2 separate regions of the Homo sapiens genome follow, and region 1 is linked to region 2. Evidence: fine-mapped expression QTL. A gene starts in region 2. The other region holds a variant in brackets. All regions are shown on one strand. Distances are from middle to middle.

Region 1 (2,900 bases), 23 kb before region 2:
TGACAGATCTTCTTCCGAAAGAACGTCTACACACTGCCGATGACATTTACTTCACTCAGAATTTGCAAGTCCAATGCCGACATGAATATGCACGGCACTGCTGCTTGGATACGTGGCCTCAGGGCCACGCCTGCGGGTGATGTGACAAGTCCACAGACTCCCGTGGCGGCTTCTCACCGAGAAACATTCCAGCACCTGGAGGCTGCCAGCTGGGAACCCCCTTTAGGCGACGTCAGCGCCGTTGGTTCTCAGCCTGAGCCGCCCCCTGTGCCCGCTGTGGTCCTCCAGGCCCAGGCAGGGAGAGCCCGAGGAAAAGCAAGCGGAGGGTCAGATGGGGAACCAGCGTGCCTGGAGCCACGCAGGGACACGGACTTAGAATTCTACCTTGCATTTAAGGAACAGATGATAGATACTCTCTACAGTCTCTTCCAGGAAATAGAAGCAGAGGAACACTTTATAACTCACTCTACGAGGCCGGCATTACCCCAATAACAAAACCGAGGATGTTACAAGAAAGGAAAACGCAGACCAGGATGTCTCATGAACACAGATGCAAAAACCCTCAACAAAACAGCAGCAAATCCAGCATCACATACTAAGAATTATACACCACAGGATTTCCCAACCAGCACCACATACTAAGAATTACACAAATAGCAGCGAATCTCATGCAGCGCTACATGGTAAGAATTAGACAGCACAGGATTTATTCCAGGCATGCGAGGCTGCTCCAGGGTTCGGAAACAGATTATCGAAATCCATCATGGCAACAGGAACTATTTTCCAAAACCCAACACCCATCTGTGAGAAAAACCTTTCACAAGCCAGGAATACAAGGGAACTCCCTCAGCTTGGTAGAGAACATCTACTAAAAACCTACAGCCCATGTCATACTCAATGGTGACAAACCTGAAGCTTTTCTTCCTAAGATAGGGAAGGAGGCAGGGAGGCCCCCTATCCTCACTCCTATTTAACGTCATACTGTGAGTTCACAGGATGGACACTACCGATTTCAACACTTGCTATAAAGCCCCAGTTATCGGTACAGTGTAATTTTTTTTTTTTTTTT[G/TTG]AAATGGAGTCTCACTCTGTCGCCCAGGCTGGAGTATGGTGACACAATCTTGGCTCACTGCAGCCTCTGCCTCCTGGGTTCAAGTGATTCTCCTGCCTCAGCCTCTTGAGTACTTGGGATTTCAGGCACCTGCCACCATACCTGGCTAATTTTTGTATTTTTAGTAGAGATGGGGGTTTCACTATATTGGCCAGACTGGCCTCGAACTCCTGACCTCAAGTGATCCACCCGCCTCGGCCTCCCAAAGTGCTGGGATTACAGGCGTGAGCCACCACACCCAGCCAGTAAAGTGTAATCGTGGCTAAAGAACAGACAAATATTCCAATGGAACAGAAAAGAGAGCCCAGAAGTGGACGGACACATGCATGGGCAAATGATCTTTGAGAAAGAAGCAAAAGTTATTGATGTTGAAAAGACTGTCTTTCAACAGATGGTGCTGGAACAACTGACATCCACATGTAGAAAAAAATGGGTCTTATACCTTTCAGGATAATTAACTCAAAAGGCCTCACAGACCTTAATATAAAATGCAAGATAATACAATTTATAGATAATAACACATTTTATTTAATATAAAATACAAGATAATAAAATTTCTAGGTAATAAAATCTAGGTATCTTGGGTATAAAATCTAGGTATCTTGGGTTTGGCAATGAGTTTTTAGATGCAACATCAAAAGCATAATCCACAAAAAAAATGAATAAGCTGGACTTCATTAAAATTAAGAAATTACACGGCTGGGCGTGGTGGCTCACACTTGTAATCCCAGCACTTTTGGAGGCCAAGGCGGGTGGATCACCTGAGGTCAGGAGTTCAAGACCAGCCTGACCAACATGGAGAAACCCCATCTCTACTAAAAATACAAAATTAGCTGGGCATGGTGGTGCACGCCTGTAATCCCAGCTACTCGGGAGGCTGAGGCAGGAGAATCACTTGAACCCGGGAGGCGGAGGTTGTGGTGAGCCGAGATTGTGCCATTACACTCCAGCCTGGGCAACAAGAGCGAAACTCCGTCTCAAAAACAAAAAAGAAAAAACAAAAACAAAACAAAACAAAAACGCTCTAAAAATGACACTGTTAAACGAATGAGAAGACAAGATACAGCCTAGGAAAAAATATTTGCAAAATACTTGATAAAGGAGTGTTATCCAAAATATATAAAGAACTTTTACAACTCAACAATAAGGAAACAAACATGAAGAAATGGGCAAAACATCTGAATAGACACCTCATCAAAGAAGACGTAGCAATGGAAAAATAAGCACAAGAAAAATGCTCCACATCATATGTCATTAGAGAAATGTCGATTAAAACAATGAGATCAAATGAGAATGGCTACAAAAACCAAAACCAAGATCCTGACGACACCAAACGCTGGCAAGGCTGCGGAGCAACAGAACCGCCCTCACCCGTGGCTGCTGGGAATTCAAAATGGCGCAGCCGTGCTGGAAGGCACTTTGGCAACTTCCTACAAAGCTCAACGTATCCTTACCACGTGTTCCAACGATCGCCCTCCTTGGCATTTCTACTCCCAAAGGGGTGAAAGCCACACAGAAACCTGCACATGTATGTTTATAGCAGCCTTCTTCATAAATGCCAAAAACCAAGATGTCCATCAATAGCTGAGTGAATAAACAAGCTGGGGGACATCCAGATAATGGAATATTATTCAGCCGTAAAAAGAACAAGCTATCAAGCCATGAAAAGACAGGGAGAAACCTCAACTACATACTGCGAAGGGAAAGAAGCTGGTCTGAAAAGGCTGCATACGGTATAATCCCAGCTGTGTGACGTTCTGGGTAAGACAAACTGGAAAGACAGTAAGAGGAT
Region 2 (2,900 bases):
GGCAACTCTGGAGCTGCCCCCAAGCTGCCCCAACCGCCTTCCCAGCCTCGCAGGAGTAGACTGTCTCTGTGACATCTCTCCCACTCCCTACCCAGAAGGCACACCACTGGCACTGCTTTTGGGGTGAAGGAGAGGGGAGCCCCGGGGCTGGTTACTGAGGCTCACCTGTATGACGACCTTGACGGTGGCAGTGTGGATGGTGGGGGTGCACACCAGGCCGCCGGCGTGCTGGCCGTCGGCGCTGCGGTTCTGCTCGCCCATGGTGAACAGCATAGGCACCGCCAGCAGGGCCGAGGCGAGCCAGATGGCGCTGATGAACTTCTTGGTGCGGCTTCGGGACATGAGGGTCTTGGCCTTGAAGGGGTGGCAGATGGCCAGGTAGCGCTCCACACTCAGGCTGGCCACGTTGAGGGCCGTGGCGTAGGTGCAGGCGTCGCGCAGGAAGTAGTAGCCGCGGCAGCCGGCGTCGCCGAAGGCCCAGGGGTGGTGCACCCAGATGAAGTTGTACAGCTCCACGGGCATGGCCAGCAGCAGGGTGAGCAGGTCGGACAGCGCCAGGCTGCCCAGGTGGTAATGCACCGTGCTCTGCAGGCTCTGCAGCGACTTCTTCCGCGCCAGCGTGAACGCCGTCACCGTGTTGCCCACCGTGCCCACCACGAAGAGCGCCAGGTACACGGCGGTCACCAGCACCTTGGAGTAGATGTCGGTGTTCACGTCCAGCTCGCTGCTGGGTGCCGCCAGGACGCGCTCCGACGCGTTGCCCGAAGCGTTGCCGAAGCCCGGGGCCAGCAGCGCCTCCTCCAGTCCGGCCTGCGCCCGCTGGAAGGGGTCGGCGGCCGGCGTGCCCGGGGTTCCCGGCGCGGAGCTGTTGAGGCGCATGGTGGGCGCTGGAGTCCGCGGCTCTGTCCGGCGCCTCCGGGGCTGGAAGTCCGGGCAGGAGTGGGCGCGTCTCAGGCGGGGACCGATGAACGGGAGCCCAGGGGAGGGCGCGTGGCGAAGACCAGCGGGCGCGCCGTCCAGTCGGGAAGCGCCAGACCCAGACGCGCCGCCCCGGGCTCCGGGCTCCGGGCTCCGCTCTCCTCCGGACTCCCAGCTTCCGGCTCCTAGCTCCAGAACCCGTGGTTCCTCGGGCTGTCTCCCGGCTCGGCGCTTGCCACGGGTTCCAGGTGCCTCCGATCTCCAAACCGCGCGGTTCCCCAGGCCCCCGAGGACAGCGCCCAGCCCGGCTCGGGCTGCGCGGGGCGAGCTTGTGGCGCCGGGAGGAGCGCACGCACTGCTGCCCGGGCGCGCTCCCCTCCCTCGCTCAGAATCTCCTCCCTCGCGCTCTCCGCGCACCCCAGCCCCGCACACCTCCCGCCGCGCCCGCGCCCTCCCGGCTCTGCGCGTCTCCACGGAGCCGGCGGCCGCGCGGCGCGCCCAGCAGTGGGGGGTGGCGGCGGAGGAGGGAGGCAGCCCCCGCCGCCATCCCCGCCCCGCCCGGGTGCAGCCTGGCGGGTCGCCCCCTCGCGCTCCCCGGGGCAGGGCGGGCTGGGGTGAGCGCTCCAGGGAACCAGGATTCCGAGCGGGCGCGGCGGGTATCGTGCACCAGACCCTTCCTGCCACCCTCTTCCCTGTTCTCCGCAATTTCTCGCACCGGCTAGGAAGGGAACTATGCACCTCCCCCAACCCTGGGCTCGCTCAGTTGGGGTGAGGGTGTATCCGGAGGGCAGGGAGGGAGGAAGCTCCCCGCTGGCAGGGCTGGGCGGCTGCGCAGCTGGTTGGGCCGACCCCCACTCCTGGGTGTCCACAGGGTGCCAGAAGCTGGGTGCCCAGGGGGCTCTAGGACCACTGGAGATTACATTTCTGGTGATTCCTTTTAAAATCTGGCCGCAGTCATGGGCGTGCCTGGTCTGTGAATGCGTATTTCTGGGATGTGCCCAGTGGAAATGGTGGGGGCTCAGGGCATAGTTATCACCTGGGGCAGGATGGCGTGAGGCAGTACCGAGGGACACCTGCAGGGGCTGAGGAGCTGAGGGGCTGGGTCCTGCAGAGGCCGGGAGCCACAGATGGTTTCATCAAAGTCTGGGGAGGGGTGAATGAGGGAGGGCAGAAAGCAGGTGCCCAGAGCAGCACCCTCCCCACTCAGGGCCCTGCATCTGGCACCCTGGGCTGGTCTCATGACGCTATGGGATGTGATGCCCTGGGCCCCTTATTACTGCCTGGATTTGTCATCAGAAGCCACCCTGAGAGCCTGCGCCCCAGCAGGATTTGGGAGAGGCAGCCCCAGCACGCATCCTCCCAGGCCCTGCAGGCTTTGCACACTCCCTCCCTCTGAGTGTCCTCACAGGGTGCCCCGGCCCCTGGCTCGGGAGCCAGGTGAGGGCAAGATTCCTGTCCTTTCCGTGTCCCCCCCAGCACCTGGTGGCACTGGCATAGGTGGCCAGGCACAAGCTTGCCCCCCCCTCCATGTCTGGGTTGCCCAGGGGCCCCCAGGGCACTACTGTCCCTTCTCTGGGCCCTCCCCGCCCCCTCCCCTGCTCCCTCCTCCCCAGAACCCCTGGGAGAGGTTGGGTAGAGCTGCTGCCCCATGTGTGCAGGGCTGGGAGGAGCTGCTCGAGTGCAGCCCAGGGAACCAGCCTGGCCTTTGTGCACATGGCTGGCTGCACCTGCTGTGCTGGGAGCAGGAAACCTGGGCAGGCTGGGGCGGGGGTCGCAGGGTGTTGAGGGAAGCGGGAGGCTGAGGAACCCCCTCCCGGGCCCGCCCAGCTAGGAGAATTCAAGGCTTCTGAGCCGGTGGCTGGCAGCGGGACTCTGTGATTATTCGTCCGTTCTCGCCCTGCTTTGGACTTCTCTGTTCAACCGGAGCCTGATACTCTTGTCAGGGGGCTGCAGCTCACAAACATCAGAGCTTAGAAATCTTG

The links.
Region 1: its variant is fine-mapped to the expression of NTSR1 in monocytes after R848 (Quach 2016, PIP 0.95). The same link has a PIP of 0.9 or more in monocytes and monocytes after Pam3CSK4.

What each region holds. Positions count from the first base shown.
Region 1 is chr20:62,730,289-62,733,188 of GRCh38, reverse strand. All of the region lies in intron 1 of NTSR1 (neurotensin receptor 1), which reads right to left. NTSR1-AS1 (NTSR1 antisense RNA 1) reads left to right here. Exons shown (of 2, transcript NR_199009.1): 2 at 7-2,900. Among named protein-coding and RNA genes, the nearest start is that of NTSR1-AS1, 3.6 kb to the left of the region's middle. The variant G/TTG (reference allele first, on the strand shown) is at 1,070.
Region 2 is chr20:62,707,187-62,710,086 of GRCh38, reverse strand. It overlaps NTSR1 (neurotensin receptor 1), which reads right to left and starts at 1,251. Exons shown (of 4, transcript NM_002531.3): 1 at 166-1,251. The coding sequence starts at 879. RefSeq lists enhancers at 1-504, 505-1,051, 1,261-1,773, 1,774-2,287.